Linked DNA regions of Homo sapiens. The protein of the gene in region 1 purifies or fractionates together with the protein of each later gene. This does not show direct contact. Each region holds a gene or a part of one and is shown in the gene's direction. Other genes may lie near its edges. The genes, in order: ACP6, LACTB2, RGS10, ALDH1L1, RSU1 and DHX36.

What was found.
Region 2: the proteins of ACP6 (region 1) and LACTB2 purify together in Homo sapiens (co-immunoprecipitation; one large-scale study listed by IntAct). This does not show direct contact.
Region 3: the proteins of ACP6 (region 1) and RGS10 purify together in Homo sapiens (affinity purification with mass spectrometry, with the first as the bait; one large-scale study listed by BioGRID). This does not show direct contact.
Region 4: the proteins of ACP6 (region 1) and ALDH1L1 purify together in Homo sapiens (co-immunoprecipitation; one large-scale study listed by IntAct). This does not show direct contact.
Region 5: the proteins of ACP6 (region 1) and RSU1 purify together in Homo sapiens (affinity purification with mass spectrometry, with the first as the bait; one large-scale study listed by BioGRID). This does not show direct contact.
Region 6: the proteins of ACP6 (region 1) and DHX36 purify together in Homo sapiens (affinity purification with mass spectrometry, with the first as the bait; one large-scale study listed by BioGRID). This does not show direct contact.

What each region holds. Positions count from the first base shown.
Region 1 is NC_000001.11:147,650,025-147,653,829, reverse strand, and holds part of ACP6 (lysophosphatidic acid phosphatase type 6), read left to right. Parts: intron 1-1,182; exon of another isoform or gene 1,183-1,238; intron 1,239-1,280; coding exon 1,281-1,381; intron 1,382-3,591; coding exon 3,592-3,687; intron 3,688-3,805. UniProt on the Homo sapiens protein: Hydrolyzes lysophosphatidic acid (LPA) containing a medium length fatty acid chain to the corresponding monoacylglycerol.
Region 2 is NC_000008.11:70,662,584-70,666,388, reverse strand, and holds part of LACTB2 (endoribonuclease LACTB2), read left to right. Parts: intron 1-3,109; exon of another isoform or gene 3,110-3,805.
Region 3 is NC_000010.11:119,525,571-119,529,375, reverse strand, and holds part of RGS10 (regulator of G-protein signaling 10), read left to right. Parts: intron 1-1,951; coding exon 1,952-2,070; intron 2,071-3,257; coding exon 3,258-3,344; intron 3,345-3,805. UniProt on the Homo sapiens protein: Regulates G protein-coupled receptor signaling cascades, including signaling downstream of the muscarinic acetylcholine receptor CHRM2.
Region 4 is NC_000003.12:126,105,329-126,107,891, reverse strand, and holds part of ALDH1L1 (cytosolic 10-formyltetrahydrofolate dehydrogenase), read left to right. Parts: exon of another isoform or gene 1-645; coding exon 646-751; exon of another isoform or gene 752-1,966; coding exon 1,967-2,166; exon of another isoform or gene 2,167-2,359; intron 2,360-2,563. UniProt on the Homo sapiens protein: Cytosolic 10-formyltetrahydrofolate dehydrogenase that catalyzes the NADP(+)-dependent conversion of 10-formyltetrahydrofolate to tetrahydrofolate and carbon dioxide.
Region 5 is NC_000010.11:16,688,129-16,691,933, reverse strand, and holds part of RSU1 (ras suppressor protein 1), read left to right. Parts: intron 1-3,805. UniProt on the Homo sapiens protein: Potentially plays a role in the Ras signal transduction pathway. Capable of suppressing v-Ras transformation in vitro.
Region 6 is NC_000003.12:154,303,988-154,307,792, reverse strand, and holds part of DHX36 (ATP-dependent DNA/RNA helicase DHX36), read left to right. Parts: intron 1-1,497; coding exon 1,498-1,577; intron 1,578-2,624; coding exon 2,625-2,699; intron 2,700-2,820; coding exon 2,821-2,987; intron 2,988-3,805.

The sequences.
Region 1 (3,805 bases):
ATATTAAAAAAATCTGAGATGCCCTTCATAAAGAAAGCTGGTTAATCTTTAAATCTGTTTTCCTTAAGCTTATTTAGCCATAGGATCTTTTTTTCTGTAATAAATACATAAAGAAGACTAACAATGGGAAAGGTTTCTCTAGATTTAAAAGTTGGACATCCAAAGTTATATAGGATCCTCCCCACTCTTGTGAAAATAAAATGACTGTGTACCCTAAAGGCAGAAATGCACCTTGCTTTTATGTGTAAAATAGGTTTAAGGTTAGAAGGCAAGAGTTCATATCATGTATTTGTATGGCGTATTTTTTAGACTTCATTTTGGGAAAATGAAGATCAAGTAGGAATTTATGAATTCCTTGCTTTGTATTTTATTCATCTTTTTTTTTTAAGTTAAAAAATACAGGCCAGGCATGGCGGCTCATGCCTATAATCCCAGCACTTTGGGAGGCTGAGGTGGGAGGATCACAAGGTCAGGAGTTCGAGACCAGCCTGGCCAATATGGAGAAATCCTGTCTCTACTAAAAATACAAAATTTAGCCGGGTGTGGTGGTGCATGTCTGTAGTCCCAGCCACTCAGGAGGCTGAGGCAGAATACTTGCTTGAACCTGGGAGGCAGGGGTTGCAGTGAGCCGAGATCACGCCACTGCATTCCAACCTGGGTGACAGGGCAAGACTCCATCTCAAAAAAAAAAACCAGTAAAACAGGCCGGGCGCGGTGGCTCACACCTGTAATCCCAGCAATTTGGGAGGCCGAGAAGGGTGGATCACGAGGTCAGGAGATTGAGACCATCCTGGCTAACACGGTGAAACCCCGTCTCTACTAAAAATACAAAAAAATTAGCCGGGCGTGGTGGCGGGCACCTGTAGTCCCAGCTACTCAGGAGGCTGAGACAGGAAAATGGCGTGAACCCAGGAGGTGGAGCTTGCAGTGAGCCGAGATCGTGCCACTGCACTCCAGCCTGGGCGACAGAGCGGGACTCCGTCTCAAAAAAACCAAAAAAACAACAAAAATGCTTTTCATTTTTGAGTGGATGGGGAGTCATCAGAAAGGGAAGAAACCCTTTCTTTTTTTTTTTTCCTGGCCTTCAGGTATCTAGTAATAGCTTTGGAAGAGCTTTAGAGACATAGCTTCTTGACCTGTTAACAGACATAGCTGTTCTTGAGCCTGTCTTCTCTTCCCCAGGAGAAGATGGGCTCCTGCAGGTTCCATGGAAGCTGATCAGCTGCCAGAATCAGTAGGTAAGAAGCATTTTTTTCTAAAACTACATGTGGCCCTTTCAGGCACACAACCTCCCAAGCTGCCCCATGCTGAAGAGATTTGCAAGGATGATCGAACAGAGAGCTGTGGACACATCCTTGTACATACTGCCCAAGGAAGACAGGTGAGGGGCTCTCACTGCTGGCATGAAGTCACGCTTGGTCAGACATCCAAGTGTATGGGGAAGAGGAGTTCATCAGGCCCACTCACACCTGACAGCTGATGTCTCCTCGTGTAAGGAGGCTGAACCCCATTCTGCCCACCTACCAGTAGGCCCTAGGTCCTCGCACTTCTACAGCTGGGACTGGTGGCCTAGTGCTTCTGTTCCCTGTTATGCAGAACCAGGAGCCACCACCCTCATGACTTTATCACTTGCCTTTTCCTTTTGCTTTAAGGTTTAAAGGATTTGGGTGGGGGGAGCTGAAGAAAGAATATTCATTTCTGTCTTTAGTCATCATGTTACAATTTGCAAACCATTTTCACATTCTCACTGTGAGGTGAGAGAGATACCTTTCTCCCTGGCTTTATAGATAAAGAAACTGAGGCTGGGAGATATTGCCTACCTGGTCTAGGCCCAGCTAGCAAGTGATGGAGCCAGAACTTGGACCCAGATCCACTGACTGCCTATTCTGTGTTTTCGCTATATTACTAGCAGTTAGGGTTCTGTTTCCTGACTACCAGAATGGAAAGTTTTTCTCTCACCAAATTTCAGAAGACACCTTTTTTTCTGATTTGTTGAGAGCATTCAACTTGCACTAAAAATAGGTGACTTGATAGAGGAGGGGAGGTAGGAAGTAGCCCTGGGAAAGATGAGTAGGGGGGAAAGGCATCTAACAGTTCAAGAATTTGCACGGTTGGGTGCCCAAGGATAAGAGCCCCTGACTGCATTCCTTCCACTCAGGGTCAGTGTGTCCACTTCTGTGCAAGCCTAGGGCATCTAGAAGGTTCCTGCCAAGCCACACAGCTTGCTGCCACTCCCTGGGACTTGCCAGCTTCCCTTTTCTGCTTGTGAAGGGGTGCCACCATACCTAAATTGTTACTTACTTCCCTCTCCTTTATCAACACACACACACATATTTAGTAAATATTTTAAGCTGTCAGGATCATGCAATTTCTGTTACAACTACTCATCTCTGCCCTTGTAACATGAAGCAACCAAAGACAATATGCAAACAAATAGACATGGCTGTGTGCCAGTAAAATTTGTTTACCAAAACTGGTCAGATTTGGCCTATGGTATAGTTTGCTTTATTCTGGTGTAAATCATTTTAAACAGGACCTTGTCTATTCCATTCCAATTAGCCCTGGTTTTGTAAAACTAACATTTCTTCAAGGACAAATGGTTACAACCTCACAAGGCCATCCAACTTGGCTTTGCCTGTATACATTCTTCTGAAAAGTATGTGTTGCATACAGTGTTGGTTGCCTGCTCTTCATCCATTGCTGCAACATTCCTTGACTTATAAAGATGGTCATTTACCCAATCACCACAAATAAGGATTTGTCTAAGCCAATCATGGCAACCTTGTTTTCATTTGTCAGTGGCTGGGTTCTGGGAATTCTAGGAGGGGTGTTTTTTTCTCTTTGATAAAAAGTGAGAAGCACAAAAACAAGGAGAAGACCAGTCTCTGAAGTCTCCATGGAAGCTGATCAGCTGCTAGGATGAGTAGATGAGAAACATTTCTTTCTTCTATAGTAAGTGGACTTTGTTCACTACTGTGAGTGAACATGCTTTAAGCTGCAGTAGTCACCTGTGGCCATGATGTGACAGGCCTGAGAATGAAAGTGGTGGAGCCACACAGCCAAGCCTGGGAGCACGACCACTGAACTTCTTCTGTAAAATAAATAAGACATAAATAAGAAATGTCTTTATGGCCCAAACTCCAAAAGAAGGAAGGCTGGCACATAGGAAACAAAATTAAGGATGTTCTTGTTCCTTCTGATTATTTTTCTAAGGGCCTTCTAGAATTCCTGGAAATTATTACCCCTTCTTCTTCCCAGCTTGTCAGCTTTGTTCTTTGATTCCCCAAGGCCTAGTTGGTCACGGCTTATCCAGGTTACCACTCTCCTGCTCCCTCAGCCCCTCCCATCTCAGTTGTGTTCACAACAGGTCTGTGTGCTGGTGCCTGTGTTGTTGGGAGTCTTCATTCACAGAGGACCCCAAGACCGGACTCGGTGCCATTTCTCTCCTTCTGGCCCGTTGCTGGCCCTTATGCATTACTTGCCTTTTTCTCAGCTCTGTCTGGACTCATGAGGTCCTGGGGGCAGAATCAGTCTGTGTCCCCTGAATGCTGAGTGCCCTCTAGGTGCTTAAATGTTGTTCACTTTTCACAGGGAAAGTCTTCAGATGGCAGTAGGCCCATTCCTCCACATCCTAGAGAGCAACCTGCTGAAAGCCATGGACTCTGCCACTGCCCCCGACAAGATCAGGTACCTGGCACAGCAACTCTGCTTTGTGCAGCTAAGGGCCGTGGGAACTTCTGGCTGTAGGGAGGGAACCCAAATCTTAGTGAGGCAAGAACCAGGCTGTCAGTGACCGAAGGTAGAT
Region 2 (3,805 bases), on another chromosome or scaffold:
TTTAGAGCACAGTTTAAATACCATTTCCTCATGGAAGTCTTCCCTGACCCATCAGACTGTATTAGGGACACTCCATACTTTTCATGGTCCTTATCTCAATGATAATGAAATGATTTTTTTGTGCAAGAAGCTTAGTGTCTTTCCACACCTTCATACCCCACTATAACATCAGTTCAGTGAAAGCATATTCATGGCTATATCCCCAGCACCTAGCACAGAGCCTTGTACACAGTTCAGGTAGAACAGTAAACAGTTGCTGAATGAATGAGCATTCTGTACATTTTCTCTTAATTTTCACTATTATGACTCCAGAACTGCTGGATAACTACAGTTTTAGCTGGTCTTCCTTCCTCATCTGATCAGCCCATGGAAGCCAAATGAATTTCACTAAAACACTGCTAGACCTAACTGTGATGCTTAGTACATAGGTACTCAATAAGCATTTGAATCAACAAATGACAGCCAAATTGTCCAGTGTTTTTACTTTCCTCCTCTGCTCAAGAACCTTTAAAAACTGCAATTTTAACCTTTCCTATCAAAATTGTACATACTTTGTGGGCAGACAGTGTGGCTGATAATAGAAAAAGGTAGTCAAGTGGAATAGAATTAAAACTCTGGACTCTGGTTACCTCGATTAGAATCCTGGTGCCATTTACTAGCCATATGACTTTGGACAAGACAGTTCTAAGCTTCAGATTCCTGATACAACCCAATGAAGGTTGTGTAGTACCTACCTCATTGGATTTTATAAGGGCTCAGTGAAATTTAAGTGAAAAAACGTATATGAAAAGCACTTAACAAGTTCTAGCACGTGGAAAACATACCATGTTAGCCATTATGTTTATCACTTCTGCTTTCCTCATAACATCTAGATAACACTGTGCTCATAGTAGGTGTTCAGAAAATATCTAATGATTTTATAAGAGTGACAGCAAATAGAGACCAGTTAATAGCTATCTTAATATTGACATGAAATACCTATAACAAGGAATTTGATTCTACTAATTTTCCATCAATTAAAAATTTTTTTCTCCATTCATGTAGCAAACAGTTATTGTGTGCCTACTATGTGCCAGGCACTTTGCTCTAGTGAATAAATCGTTCATAGACCTATACAGATTCATCCATACTCTTCCCTTGAGCCCTTCATTAGCATAATTTGCATTTGCAAAATGACCTCCTGAGATAGGGATATTATTATCTGTGGCCAAGAAGAACAAAGTCAACTAGCCCATGTAGAGATGATACTATCCAATCATCTATTATAACTATTTACAGACATCACTGATAGAGTAACTGTTTGCTAAGGGAGAAACTGATAACATTTTTTTCAATTTCAAAACTGATAACAGTTTTTTCAAATGTATAGCTGAAGTTTTATTTTTGCCACATAATGATTCTAAGCACTTAACCTAAGCAATCCCCTTCTGCTAGAGAGGCAGTGTTTTGAATGGAGAAGTCACTGGACCTTGTATCTGAACATCTAGTGCTTCCTAGCACTGCCTCTTGCTGGTTATATGACCTGGAGCAAATCACTTAGCCTTTCTGAAGATAAGTTTTCTATAAAATAAATAATTAATAAAGTAATAATACCTCCCTAGAGTTGATATGAGGATCAAAAGAAATAGTAAATATGAAAGCCCCAAATGGTTTAAATTGCTATGTCAATGTCATATGTTATCAGTGTGACTTTTTTTTTCCCTCAAAGCTTGGTGCAAACTCATGTTTTAGGTTTTATAGTATCTAGACACCCCTCCTTTGTTCTGAATAGATTGTATTAATTCCAGAACTTTTTTCTGTTTTCTTTCTTTTGAGAGCCCTTCTTTTATCAATTCCAATTTTGTTAAACCAAGACAGGACCATTAAGAGACCTAAAACTGGAGCCCCAGAAACATGTTCTCCACTACCACAGTCGTATGGTCACTCACACTTTCACCTGCAAACAACCAGCACAGGCATTCTAAAAGATCTGTTTTCTTTGCTACTAGATTTTATCAAATTCATGTATCAACCCTGTTAATTTTGTCATGACTTTTGATCAGTGTGATGTGATCTGGTCATTAAATTACAGAAATTTATATTCATTTTTAGATTAGGAGATATTTCAAAACAGAGTTTCTTGGGAGGACGGGAAGGCAAGGATTAAGAAATAATTTTAAAAGTGGTGGGGCCTTGATGGATTGAAAAAATTTGAGCCTTACCTGAAGCATGGAAGTATTCTTTTTGTGAGGACCAGAAGACCCACAAAAATAGTCCCAGTGACTCTACGTTAGGGGCAGTGAGAATTTGTGGTAAATAACTGCAAATGCATGGAGGCAGCCAAAATCTAGGATGGGTGGGCTAGAGAGTATTATTGGAGGTATCATAGTATTATAGTCTTGTGTATTTTAATTTAGCATAACTAAATATGCACAATGCTAAGTGCAGTACAATGTATTATGGATATAGAAATAAATCCATAAATTCCTTGAACCAAACAGACAAGCTTTCTGCCCTGAAGGGACTCAAATTTGTACGGTGGTGTTGGTTGTGGAAATAGGCAATAAAAAAATAAATATGTAAATACATAATATATTACATGGTAATAATTGCTATGGAAAAAAAGCAAGATAAGATGGCTAGGAATAGCATCAGAACTCACTCTGACCCGAGTCAAACTCATCTCAAATTTGCTCCCTCCAGGGTTTACCTTCTTGATTAATGGCACACCAATCCTCCCACCTAGAAACCTCAGAGTCGCCAACTGTTTCCCTCCTTCCACATCTCGTTGTTTAACAAATATCCTGGTGGTTGGTTGATTGTACCTTCTAAATGTTCTTAAAGCCATCTCTTCCTTACATTTCCACTACCAACAGAACCCTATAATAAATGCCCTCTTGGTCCAGTGTAACCATCTGGTCTCCTGTCTCCGGATAGGACAGTTCAACACTGTGTTTCTGAAGGACATCTACTGTGCTACAGAACATAGGGTGCAGATAGAAGCCAATGGGCTATGAGGCCATTACCCTCCTCCCTTATGAGAGGCCAGTTTGTTTTTGTTGGCTCTGGGTCTCAGGGAGTAGGGTTAGGGAAACAAACCAATAAAAAATAACCATCCAGTTACTCACTGTTTAATTTTAATGCTTTGCAAAATGCTTTCTATGGTATGTTACTTTTATTGTTTATTTCCAGTCATATGCAGTTCCCCTTCTCACCAACAGTTGAATGTAAGCAGGGTTGTTGTGTCCTGCTTACTGCAAGAAACAAATTTGTAGCACATATTAGGTAATCCATAAACAGTTATTGATCAATTAATGAATAACTCAGACTTTTCATCAAGGCTAATCTGTCAGCCAGCCTGAATTATTGAGGTGTTACTGTGAAACAGTATGAGTGAAGAAGTTTGTGAATTGGATCTTGAGCTGGGCATGGTGGCTCAACGCCTGTAATCCCAGCACTTTGGGAGGCTGAGGTGGGAGGATTGCTTGACCCCAGGAGTTAAGAGACCAGCCTGGGCAATATGACGAAACACCATCTCTACAAAAAATACAAAAATGAGCCGGGCATGGTGGCACATACCTGTAGTCCCAGCTACTCAGGAAGTAGATGTGGGAGAATCGCTTGTGCCCAGGAGGTCAAGGCTGCAATGAGCTGAGATCGCAACACTGCACTCCAGCCTGGGTGACAGAGCAAGACCCTGTCTCAAAAAAAAAAGAATTGGATCTTGAGGAACATGTCACCCCCATGTCTTTAGTTCAGCAAAACTTCACAGAGAAAGGCCACCTCATAAAATCGTGAGGAAGGGCAAACAAAATATAAGGAAGAT
Region 3 (3,805 bases), on another chromosome or scaffold:
TTCAAATGATTCCCCTGCCTCAGCCTCCCAAGTAGCTGGGACTACAGGCACCCACCACCACACCCAGCTACTTTTTTTTATTTTTAGTACAGACGGGGTTTCACCATGTTGGCCAAGCTGGTCTTGAACTCCTGACCTCAAGTGATCCACCCGCCTCAGCCCCCTAAAGTGCTAGGATTACAGGCGTGAGCCACCGTGCCCGGCCAGAAACTGGGTTTTGAACCTGGCCCCATCTGAAGTGACATTCCATGGTTCTTCCTTGACTCCAGGAAGGGATCACATGCCATAGAATGAAGCATGCTTTAATTGTTCCCTCCTCCTACAGGCAAGTGGCCAAAGTGTGTTATTTGGAGATTCCCTGTTCCTCCCAGGAGACTTCTCAGTGTCGTGAGTCAGAGAGTACAGTGGAAGATGTGCAGATGCAAAGAGTTTTCATCCATTTTCTCTGTGCACCAAAATGTAAGAGGGTTGCCAAAAACCTCAGGCATCAGGATAATGATATTTATTTATTTATTTATTTATTTATTTATTATCATTATTTTTAGATGGAATCTTGCTCTGTCGCCCAGGCTGGAGTGCAGTGGTGTGATCTTGGCTCACTGCAACCTCCGCTTCCTGGGTTCAAGCGTTTCTCCTGCCTCAGCCTCTCAAGGAGCTGGGATTACAGGTGCATGCCACCACACCCAACTAATTTTTATATTTTTAGTAGAGATGAGGTTTCACTCCTGACCTCTGGTGATCTGCCTGCCTTGGCCTCCCAAAGTGCTGGGATTACAAGTGTGAGCCACTGCACCCAGCCTATAAATGATATTTAATGCAGTGTTTTAAAAGATCAAAATTAATGCAGAAACATCCGTAATGAACAAATATCCGAAGTTTAAATAAAGTCAGGAAAAATAACAGTGTGATGCTGAGCCATATTGGACTCTGAAGCAAAAGGAAAAATCAGCATAACCGATCCTGTCTTTATTTAAAATTTGGGTATTTTGTTCATCATGGATTTTTTAGCATAAATTTTGATTTTTTGAAAAAGTATTGCCTGAGGAACTGGGCGCGGTGGCTCATGCATGTAATCCCAGCACTTTGGGAGGCCGAGGTGGGTGGATCACCTGAGGTCAAGAGTTCGAGACCAGCCTGGCCAACATGGTAAAACCCCGTCTCTATTAAGAATACAAAAATTAGCTGGGTGCGGTGGGAATCACCTATAATCTCAGCTACTTGGGAGGCTGAGGCAGGAGAATCGCTTGAATCTAGGAGGCAGAGGTTGCAGTGAGCCGAGACTGTGCTACTGCACTCCAGACTGGGAAACAGAGTGACTCTGTCAAAAACAAACAAACAAACAAAAAGAGCTATTGCCTGAAATGACATTTATCTTGATGCCTGGGTATTCTGGCAACCCTCTGACATTTTGCGCCATCACGTGGGTCCCGTCCTGCAATGAGTTTTTTAATCTCTGTGCCAGATAATGAGCTAGGTGCTGGAGATACAAGATGAGGACACATAGGAGCCTTCAGACTAGTGGGAGTCAGTCATGTAAATAGTCACAACACAGCACCATAATTCTAAGTCTGTGCACAAAGCGCCATGGGGAAGCAGTTGCTGTTGAATCAAGGTTCTCTTGGAGGAGGGTTTGAGTGTGACTTGAGGGCTGCCTCTGAATTGGCCAGTGGACACAAGAGTAGGGGAAGGATTTGGTGGGAAACAGCAGGTCCCTTCATCCCTCCGAGCCTCAGTTTACCCCCATCTGTAAAATGGAGGAAATAGTAGTGCCTGCCTTACAGGGTTGTGTGACAAGAATGAGTCCATCATGTTAAGCACCTAGAACAGAGCCTGACGCATAAGTCGGTGTATGTCAGCCGTGATGGTGACGGCAGTGCTGACCATTGCATGCAGATTTCTTAAAATGACAGTGTCTGTTGGCCACATATGCAGTCTGAACTTTGCTTTGCAGACATCCACGACAGCGATGGCAGTTCCAGCAGCAGCCACCAGAGCCTCAAGAGCACAGCCAAATGGGCGGCATCCCTGGAGAATCTGCTGGAAGACCCAGAAGGCGTGAAAAGATTTAGGGTTTGTCTTTTTCATTGTTAATCGGGATGGATGCAGTGTGTGCAGAAGTTCAGATGCACACAGGGGAGAAATAGGCCAGTTCAACATTGTCTGTCAGCGTAGCACTCTCTATGCCAGCTTGAGAGTTCAGTACTGTCTATCCCAGCTTGAGGGTGAGACTTTCTCATCTGTCATGACTGTGTTGGCAACGCTGTCACAGATGGGTAGCCTGTTTCTGGTTTTTGTGTAGTGAGGTGGGAGGGGTACAGGGTGGGAGGAGAGAGAAGATACCGTGCCTATTGGTGGAGTCTGTATGAGGAATTCCCAGCTCTGGGTCTCTCTGACGTGAAGGCTTGTTCTCTCGTGCTTGGGGGATTCTCAGAATGCATTGTTGACAGAGTAAGAGAGGCTGGCAATGAGAACTTGGCGAAGGGACCTCCGAGAGCAGGGCTGATGGATGGGGAACTGTTGATCCCATCTAGAAATAGCTTTTCTGACCAGCAGAAGCCCCCGGTGCCAGATGGAGGACCATATGTGAATTTCAAGAATGAGTCCTGGTTACTTCTGTCTTTAAGTCTTGGGTCAGGAATAGGATGAGTCCTCATGCAGTTGGTGCCTGTTGGAGCTCCCAGGGAGGGAGTGGCAGGTGGTACTAGGCTTCTAGTTCCTGGTCGCCAGGCCACTGTGAGCAGTGTTTGCAACTCAGGAGGTCTCTGCACAGCAGAGTAGCTGGCTGTGCCATGGACTGCCCAAGATCGGCCATAAGAAAACACACATACCTCCAACTTAAAATAGTTTGTATCATGGTGTCTTTAGACATACTTAATGTGCTTTCTTTTCTTTTGTTTAAAAAACAGCCTGATTTTAGAGGAATGTACTTTGTTTAAACACTGTCTGGAAGGAACCAATATATCTTCCACTTTAATTTACTTTTTGGTAATTTATTGTCAGCTTAGAAATATGAGTACATTCCTGCTTCATTTGTACTCTTCTTTACAATGTCAAAACCATTAAGGTCAAATGCATATGAAATTATAGCTTTAACATTAAACATACTCATTTGTTTTTCAGAGTGGGGTTTTCGAAGAGTAACTGAACCATGCTCCTCTGTTGAATTTTGCCAAATCAGTCTTTGAAGGGAAATGCCATTTGTTTTATTTTTTTTTTAAAGTAGAATACTGTGTGACTCTTTTTCTTTGTATCCACAGGAATTTTTAAAAAAGGAATTCAGTGAAGAAAATGTTTTGTTTTGGCTAGCATGTGAAGATTTTAAGAAAATGCAAGATAAGACGCAGGTATTTCCTCCACTCTGATAATTTTTTTCCCTTATAAAGTTACAACTGCCTTTCCAATAGATTCTGAAGTTGCCTAAAGAAACCTGATTCATATTAGTTTTGGGGGAAGATTTAAGCTTCAGATTAGGTATCTTGTGTTGATCAAATATTAATCATTTTTAAAAGGGTGAGTTAATCCATTTTTAAATGGAGCTGTTCAAATGGACCAATATTTAAAATAAAAATAACAATTTATGTCACTTAGAGTTCCTCATTGCATAGAATTTTTTTCTTCATGAATAAGTTATGAGGATGTTTTCCCCACATTTTGACATGTTAGCATTTTGGACGTGGTAAAACGATACGCAGATGTGTAATGATAAAAGCACAAGGTGCATCAGAGGGATTGTCAATTATTCAGTGTATCGTACTGAGCGTCCCATAGTTGGCGAGCATCCTGCAGAGAAAGCCTCTGATTGTTC
Region 4 (2,563 bases), on another chromosome or scaffold:
CTCTGTCTCTAGAGAAAACAGAGAGGAAGCATTTCAGTTGTCAGAAGTGCTTCTGCCCTGGCAACCAGGGCCTGTAGGGGCTGCATCCAGGGTTGGGAGTAGGTGGTCCCTTCTTGACTGGAGAGCATGGAGCTGGGCCTTGGTAGGGACCCTGGGAGGGCAGAGGGAGGAAGCCCCAGGAGGTCCCAGTGCCCAGAGCTCCTCCCCTCTCACCTCCTCCTACTCCACGGGTTGTAGCCACCAGGGTCAGTGGCAGAGCTGCCTGGGAGGTTTCACCTGCCAAAGAATCTAGGTGGTTTTAGATTAGCTGTCACCAGAAAAGCTCAAGTCTTTGCTTCGGCCATGGGTTCTGGCACTAGGATTGGATGGACTTGGGATCAGGTCTCAGCTCTGTCACCTGCCAACCGGCGGCCCCATTTCCCTCAACAGCACTCCGTTAAAAGCACGGTGAGACCCACATCAAAGAACAAGCCAGGTGGGAGAGCCATCTGCAGCGTGGTGACACCCATCACACGGGTGCCGTGACCCGGTGCTTATGTCGGGTCATCCGCAGGTGGCTGGTGTGGCCCAGGCCCTGCTGACGGAGAGGCTGGACCATCGGGCACCGTGTCTCCCATGTGCAACGGGCTTTTATCTCTCTTGCAGGGTTCTTCTTTGAGCCAACTGTTTTCACAGACGTGGAAGACCACATGTTCATAGCCAAGGAGGAGTCCTTCGGGCCTGTCATGATCATCTCTCGGTTTGCTGATGGGTAGGGAATCCTGCTGATGTCTCAAGGGCCCTGACTCTCTCCCACGTGTTACTGGGGTCTTCATGTGGGCTTTGGGAGGTAGTCTACGGGCAGTCAGGAGGAGAACTCAGGCAGGGCGCAAGCCGTGGACACCCCGCTTGTGCCGCCTGCTGAGTCTCCACACCCCTGAGAAGAGAGCCCAGTGACCTGGGGCTTTGAGTCCCCCCTGTGAGCAAAGGCAGCTCCCTTCCCTGTCCTTGTCACTTGTCACATGCTCCAGCATGTTTCTCACAGCCCGCTGGGCTCTGTTCTAAGGTCTGTTACCATGCATTAAACCACCCCCCACACTGAGTGGCTTGGAATAATCAGAGATTTATTTTAGTCACGGTCTAGGTTCAATGAGGCAAACCCATCTCTGCTCCATGCAGTGTCTGGCCTCAGCTGGGGTGACAGAGTGGCTATCCTGATGCTGCTGGGGGTCTTGCGGGAGGCTTCCTCCGCGTGGCAGCCTCGGGGTTGCCGAGGCACCTGGTTCCCTTCGGAGGCCAGGTGGAAGCCAAAAGGCTCTTTATAATCTAGCTCTTTAGAATCCCAGAGCATCCCTTCCACCACGGCCTGTTGATGAAGCAAGTCACCCAGACCAGGCTGGGCTGGAAGGGAAAAACTGTACTCCACTCACAGTGGGGCCACTGAGGCCCATGCTGTCACTTCTCAGGCCTGCCCCTTGTCTCCGTAGCACCTTGGAGCAAATTGCAAAATCGTGCCTCGTCCTCACATTTTACTATCCAACTACCAAAAAAACCCCAGAAATTATCATCGTATGTCAGTGGTATTAGAATAAGAGACTTCACTGCCACCTAGCCAATAAATATGGTTGTAGTAAGTCTCCAAATCGCTGATGTCTGGTGAATGCCCAACCTGCGGCGGGCACATGTGGGTCCTTCTGCATGTGAGGACCCAGCGGCCCCTCTCTGGGCCCCTGCTCCCAGTCTGTGGAATAAAGGGCTCACCCGATGATCCAGGAGCCCCTGTGGTGGCCACCTGCCCATGGGCCTCTGCCCTTCCTCCTCGCTCGCAGCCCAACCCAACCCAATCTTGCCCCCGGCGCTGCAGCCCGGCACATTTTCTCCTCGGAAGGTCTTATGCAGCTGGGGTGTGGAGTGGGCCGGGGTGTGGAGTGGGCCAGGCTCTCCTCTGCACCTCCCTCAGGGAGTTCTTCCTGGACTTTCTCTCCAGGGACTTGGATGCCGTGCTGTCTCGGGCCAATGCCACGGAATTTGGCCTGGCTTCTGGTGTCTTCACCAGGGACATCAACAAGGCCCTGTATGTCAGTGACAAGCTCCAGGCAGGCACTGTGTTTGTCAACACGTACAACAAGACCGACGTGGCCGCTCCCTTCGGAGGATTCAAACAGTCTGGATTTGGCAAAGATCTAGGTAACCTACTCCTGCCTGTGGGGTTGCTTTCATTTATTCATTCAACAAACATCTGTTCAAAACCACTTAGGGCCAGGTCCTATCTCAGATGCAGGGACGTAGCCTTGAACATGATGGCTGTCAGGGTTCGCTTCTTACTGGGAGGGAACTTGTGACAAGTCCGTGAGCAAGATGCTTGCAGAGGGGGGTCGTGCTGGGAAGAAGGCAAGAAGAGGGGCCTGGAGGAGACACTCCAGCCAGGAGGCACTGGGGGCCTCTCTGGTGTGGTGGCACCTGTGCTACCCAGACCTGCATAGCAGGGAGGAGTTGGCCATGAAGACCCAGGGGCCCGTGTTTCTGGCTGAGGGTTCAGCAGGTCCTTGGGGGAACCAGCTTTGGTCGTGGAGCTGCAGAGAGG
Region 5 (3,805 bases), on another chromosome or scaffold:
AACCCCATTTCTACTCAAAATACAAAAATTAGCCGAGTGTGGTGGTGGGTGCCTGTAATCCCAGCTACTTGGGAGGCTGAGGCAGGAGAATCGCTTGAACCTGAGAGGTGGAGGTTGCAGTGAGTTGAGATAGATGGCGCCACTGCACTCCAGCCTGGGTGACATAGTGAAACTGTGTTTCAAACAAAAAAAAAAAAAAAAAAAAAAAAAAGAAGCAGCAGCTTCAGTAAGCACCGGAGAGCCATTGCCTCCTTTCCACGGGGACCAGCTGGTTCCATAACAGCTGCTTTTAGGGGCATCTACATGATGCTCTGCTGGGAGGTCACAAGGTACATGAGCTATGCTAGGGCAGGGGCCTGCTGTGAGTTCTCTTCTGTCCTCCTTGGGAAGGAGAAGAAGGTTGGTTACTTTGTGTATTTCAGTTTTTTTGTCCTTCTGTCATTCTCCTGTAGCAGCTGTCGTCACCCCTTTGTCAAACATACTAGCCCAAAATATGGACTGTTAGCTGATAAGACAATAAGTCAAACTCTTAATCATTAAAAAAAAAAAAAAAACTGCACAAAAATGCCGCTATTGTGTTTCACCAGATTAACACAAACTGATTTTCAAAATTAAGGGCCTCCTTTATATGAATAGATCTGTATTATATTAAGTATATCCTCATACAATTAGAACCCAACTCAACTCTTTGTGTGAAGCAGCCATTTCATAATTAGGGGATTTTTAGTATCCTATCTGAAAAATATTATGCGAATTAGCAGGTATTTGGCTACTTTTTAAAAACGTTTTACATGTGGCAGCCTTCAGGGGAGGCAGTTTATTCATGATACTCATAGTTTTTTTAAAAAAGCAAATTTCACATTCATTGCCTTAGTTTTTGATCTTCTAGTCTAAAACTTATTATAGTTCCTAATTTTCACTTCTTTGTCTCTGTTGTTTAAGCCGCATACTTCCCCTTTATTAAAAAGAATCCTTACTTATATATTTATCAGTGTCTGTGTGTTGCGGATGTGTATTTGTCTATCTTTAAACTACCATGAAAACATACTTTTGGTTTTGGCACTTAAAACGCCTATGAACCTCCTCCTCCTTCCCCCACCCCAACCGCTTTTTTCTAACCAGTTAACCCATTACCTAAATGAGAGGAATAAAGAACTAAAAAACTTACCGGAATGTTTTCTTTTCATTCATGTCTATGATCGGCGTTCACAGTGACCTTCCTCAGAGCACGTCCTCAAGTTCTTCTGAGTCTAGGGCAGAGAGGATGGATGATCTGATTTATAGGCTCTAATGGACTCCAAGAGGAGACATGGATACTTGAAAGAAAACAATGAATTCAGTGTGTCAACAGAATTAAAATACTTGGAGATGACTTAGCTTCATGAAGATGGGAACTTGTTCCATTAAGCAGGAGGGGTGTGGCTGGTAGGATGGTGAGGTATAGTTCTTCAGAGATTGCTCTTTGGAGTAACATTCTGGGCATTAATCACGGCCCCTTCATCATGTCTCAGGTGGAAGCTGCTGTCTCTTCATCTTTCGTGCCTTCCACAGGGGAACTTGTTGGCTGATGTCACTGAGTTGCCGGTTAACATGAAATTATGAGCTTGGTTGGGTCGTTGAAGCTTACATCCTACATGCTCCACTGTGTTTTTAAACTGTCGCTGAGTTATACAATTACCTGTTAACTCTTTATTTGATGGTGGTTGTCTCTTCGACCTCTTTTATTTCTTTGAAGCAGAATTATGATGGAATACTCATCACTTAAGTTTCCAGAAGGTAGATTTTTTTCCCCCAGGAGAGGCAGTCAAGTTGAAGTCAGCACCCTTGACAAGATTCTTTGTGAAAGGGGGTAACTCACACTTTGCACATTTCCATCAAGGAACGTGGATACCAACTGCAAGCCATTTTAAAAGCTGACAAGTTAACTCTTGTCAACAAGTTAACAAAAGAGGTTTGACAAATGTTAGGCTGGAAATGCTTCCCTTGAAAGAGGTATTTGGCAAACAGGCGTCATCATGAAAACTGCAATTTGCCAAGCATGGCAGTCCTAAAGCCTCATTTCCAGCATGGCATCACTCACAGGATGCTTCCTCGTCATTCTGCCTGTCTTTTTCACCTTTCTTTTCTCTCTCCGGAAAAGTTCCCCACTCATTTGTGTTTTGTGTGTTCCGTTTTTTTAACCTTAAATGAAAGACCAGCCATACTATTATTCATATTAGTTAACAAAAACATTTTAACAAAGCAGTCTTTGGTGAATGGTGGGAAACCATGAGATAAAAGCTGAGAATTCCTCTTTATTAGAAATCTAGCCAAATAAATCATCCTGTTTGATTTATAAGGAAACATTCTTTTGGCTGTTGGTTATTGTTTTTCACATTGTTTTACTTGTGGAATTAAAGCTAATTAATGTTTTATTTTTCTTCTGCATGCTGTGCAAACCTGTTACAAGCTGTAATGGACGTACATGGGCTTTATTAAACAACTACTATATCCTCTAGTGACTGCTGAGTCAGTGGCCTAGAAATTCTTTAAATAACTTCACTGATACAACCAGTCCACCACAAGGCTAGGGCATTTCAAACCTAATAGGTGAGCCCATTCATTTTAAAACAGCCCTTCACTGTAGGAAATTATCTCTAAGAAAAACTTAATAAACATCTGATGAAGTATAAATGGGTGCACAGAGCTAGCAGGTGATTTTATAAATATCTTCACAAAGATGGAGGAGAGGGTTAAATTTCCAGGATCTTTCTAGTGGTTAGTAAATTGAACATAGTGACAATCAGTATGTAGAACAATGTAGACTCTTCTTTTTCATTGCTGTATCTGAAAATAGCTCAAATTAAGCCACAGAAAAACAATTTCTGTGTAGTAGACATGAAAATGAAGAACTGTTTTTCTTTAAAGCTTTTTTTTTTTTTCCTTAGGGACACAGTATCACTTTGTCACCCAGGCTGCAGTGCAGGGGCACCATGATAGCTCACTGCAGCCTTGATCTCCAGGGCTCAAGCAATCCCCCTGCCTCAGCTTCCCTAGTACCTGGGACTACAGGCACACACCACAACGCCTGGCTAGTTTTCTATTTTATTTTTTTGTGGAGACTGGGGGTCTTGCTATGTTGCCCAAGCTACTCTCAAACCCCTGGCCTCAAGAGATTTTCCTGCCTCAGCCTTTCAAAGCGCTGAGATTACAGGCACGCACCACGGCACCTGGCTTTTAACATAAAGGTAGTTTTTACATTTTACAAGTTGACTATGTATTCTCTTCCTGGTGATATATATTTTCTTCATAAATGGTACATATTTGTATTATTTTTTCTTTTTTTGAGACGGAGTCTCGCTCTGTCGCCGAAGCTGGACTGCAGTGGCGTGATCTGGGCTCACTGCAAGCTCCGCCTTCCGGGTTCACGCCATTCTCCTGCCTCAGCCTCCCGAGTGGCTGGGACTGCAGGCGCTCGCTACCACATCTGGCTGATTTTTTGTATTTTTTTTAGTAGAGACAGGGTTTCGCCTTGTTGGCCAGGATGGTCTTGATCTCCTGACCTCGTGACCCGTCCGCCTCGGCCTCCCAAAGTGCTGGGATTACAGGCCTGAGCCACCACTACTGGCCTATATTTTCTTTTTTAAAGTTGAAAATGCATTATCACATTTTATCCATAATATGTGATTCAAAGTTTTGGCATCTGTGGACCTATTTGCAAGAAAATATGTTGCATTTAACCAGTATTGCTAAAAAGTATCAGAGAAAAGGGAAACCCATATAATATATTTGGGGTATATTGTGTCACATCTCTTATTTCATGTTA
Region 6 (3,805 bases), on another chromosome or scaffold:
ATTGATTTCTTTTCCTTTGGGTAGAAACCCAGCAGTGGGATTGCTGGATCAAATGATAGCTCTATTTTTAGTTCTTTGAGCAATCTCCATACTGTTTTCTATAGAGGCTGTGCTAATTTGCATTCCTACCAACAGTATGTAAGAGTTCTCTTTTATCCATGTCCTGGCCAAGATCTATTATTTTTTGACTCTTTAATAGTAGCCATTTTGACTGGGGTAAGATGATATCTCATTGTGGTTTTAATTTGCATTTCTCTGATGATTAGTGATGTTGTGCATTTTTCATATACCTGTTAGTCATTTGTATATCTTCTTTTGAAAAATGTCTGTTCTTGTCTTTTGCCCTCCTTTTAAGGGGATGATTTGTCTTTTATTGTTGTTGTTTGAGTTTCTTGTATATACTGGGTATTTGTCCACTGCTGGATGAATAGTTTGCACATATTTTCTTCCGTTCTGGAAATTATCTGTTTACTCTGTTGATTATTTCTTTTGTTGTGTAGAAACTTCTTAGTTAATTCCCATTTGTCTATTTTTATTTTTGTCGCCTGTGCTTTTGAGGTCTTAGTCATAAATTCTTTGCCTAGACCAATGTCCAAAGGAGTTTTTCCCTAGGTTTTCTTCTAGTAGTTTCAGTTTCAGGTAGTCTTCACCCTTTTATGGGGACTATATTCCAGGAAATTGCATAAAATTACAGAATGGTGAAAAATAAACCACTTTTGTCATAACACACTTTTGTAGCTAGACTTAAATATTTTCACTAATATATAGCAGTTACTGTATATGCTGATAGTAGGAAGAAATGCTAAGTAGGTAATTTTTCTCTTCTTTTTTCCACCATCTGTTGGAATTTGAGTAGACAGGTTAATGTGGTCTGTCAGTGTATACTAGATATACTTATTGGAAAGTTTTACTTGTAAAGTATTATTTCTTACAAATTATGCCATTTTCTATTTCTAATACCTTATTATCACTGTTCTGTCACAGAATAACTGTTGGTTACTTTTAGTTGTACAAATCAGTATTAGATTATAACATTTCATCTTTCCAAATCTTATTTTTGGCAGTCATAACTTTCAAAACATGACCAAGAACTAGAAATTCAACACCAGTCCCTACCACAAACAAAAACACAAGGGAAGAGTATCAATATGTAATTACTTTCAAATTACACATAACTTCTACAAGTTTAGATCTTGATTTACAACTCTTAGAAAAGACCAGAAAAGTATAAATTAATGAGAGGATGCTATAGAAAGGCACTTTGAAACTAGTGATGAGAGAACTTGGCCTTAAAAGACTTTATAAGAGGAAATGAAAAATAAACAGCTCTTAAGAGAGGCACACACTGTTTTAGATACCTCAGATTTTAATATCTATTTTTTTAACTCATTTAGAAATCTGAAGAACAATTTTTCAACAGTCCTAGATTTTCATGGACATTCAGGATATTTGTTCTAAAGGAAATTATATTCTCTTTATGTTTTATTTGAATTAAAGGTTGCGGAAAGAGTAGCTGCAGAAAGGGCAGAATCTTGTGGCAGTGGTAATAGTACTGGATATCAAATTCGTCTCCAGAGGTAAGAAATGTTCACTTCTTATATACAGGCAGATTTTAGTGAAACTTTGAAGCTGGAGATTCAAAAGAAAGGATATTTTCCCCATTTTTATGATGGTTATTACTATTACAATTACCATTTAAAGTAACTGCAGCGTAGATGACTTGCTGCCACAAATTTATCTTTTAACCCCACATCAGACTTGTATTGCCTTTTTTAAATGATGCTTTTATATTTGGAATGATTAGAAAAATAAACATTTTTCCTGGACATAGATTAGTAGACCATTACTCTCTCTGAAAAGATTGTGTAGACCTTTCAGTACCACCTCCATATACTTCCGACTGACTTTTTATTGATTTTGATATCTTAACCCCCTATCCAACTCCACTGTGCAGTACATAGTTGGTCCTTTTCTGGAGCTTAGGACTCCATTTGCCTTTTTATGTTTTAATTTACTTAATGTTTTTTAGAGATAGGTTCTCACTCTGTTGCTCTGGCTGAAGTGCAGTGGTGCAGTCAACTCACTGCAGCCGAAGACTCCTGTGCTCAAGCAGTCCTCCCACCTCAGCCTCTCAAGTAGCTGGGCCTACCGGCGGACACCACCACAACTGGCTAATTTTTTTACTTTTCGAGCCTGGATCTCGCTGTGTTGCCCAGGCTGGTCTTGAGCTCCTGGGCTCAAGCAACCCTCCCATCTTGGCCTCAAAGTGTTGGGATTACAAGCCTGAGCCACCATGCCTGACACATTTGCCTTTTCAAATGAGCTTTCCAATTACGAACCAAATATTTAGGCCCCATAAGTAATTCAGTTGTTGTCTGAATGTGAATGGTCGTATCTTTTAAAAGAAATTAACATTATATCAATGACAACAAAGATAATGTATAATGAACTTGAAGTATTTCCCATTACCCCATTGTGGTAGGTGTTCTTATAAGTAAAAAATTAAGTGTGAAGATTTTCATTAAAACTGAAAGCATTTCTAAAATTGAAGATATAAACCTTTGTGGTAGTTAATTATTAGAAGAGAAAACCAAGGCTTATTAATTCATGTCTTTCATTCACAGTCGGTTGCCAAGGAAACAGGGTTCTATCTTATACTGTACAACAGGAATCATCCTTCAGTGGCTCCAGTCAGACCCGTGAGTATGTTTCAATTAAGGAAATATAAGTGTTATCAAAAGATGTAATTATTAAATTGGATTTTACTAGTTGTTAAAGAAAAATGGTTTTAAAATTTTGTACTTCACACTTCTGCCTTAGGTATTTGTCCAGTGTTAGTCATATCGTACTTGATGAAATCCATGAAAGAAATCTGCAGTCAGATGTTTTAATGACTGTTGTTAAAGACCTTCTCAATTTTCGATCTGACTTGAAAGTAATATTGATGAGTGCAACATTGAATGCAGAAAAGTTTTCAGAATATTTTGGTGAGTAAAATGTATAGTTATTACATTAGAAAAGGTACTAGAAAAACAATTAAAAAAATTAATATGGTACTAGGTAAAGAGTAGTCAAAATGAATGTTTAGCTGTTAATTTTATTTTAATATTATTCTACCCTCCAGTTTCATGGATTAGACAATTGGGTCTATTTTTAAATGGTGGCATCATCTCTCATAGTGAGGACAGGTAGCTTCTTGTTGCTACCACCACACAATTAAGATGGCATCATTGAAGTCAAACCACAGATTTGCATAATTTTATAAACTTCTTTCTGTTGTTTTTCTGTGGCTTTTATCACAGGTTAGGGTGGCAGTTTGCTGCTAATACTGCTAGTGACCACTTATGGAACACCTTCAATGTTCCAGGTAGTATATTTGCCACTTTGTCTTCCTTAGTCTTTATAACACTTTATGAGGTAGTTGCTATTATCATTCACATTTTTACAGATGAGAAAGCAGCCTCAGAGCAGTTAAGTAGGTTTCCCAAGCTGAAGCTAGATTGGACCAGCTGCAAAAGCACATTCTTTTAAAATTAATCCTCACTGTCTTTCCTGCTTATACTTGTGAAGGAAGGAGGGGGAAAGGGAGGGAATTACAATGTAATATATTTATGTTTAATAAATGTTCTTGTCATCAGCTTTTTAAAAGTCCTTTAAAATACATCCCAGTTAATACTGAAAACCATGTAAGATTAGTTGGGGTAGGTGTTATTATTGTTATTTTTAAATGAGACTTCTAGAACTAACATTGAGTACTTTGCTCAAATGTGTGCACATCATGGGTAGAGCAGTGATACCTACTTAG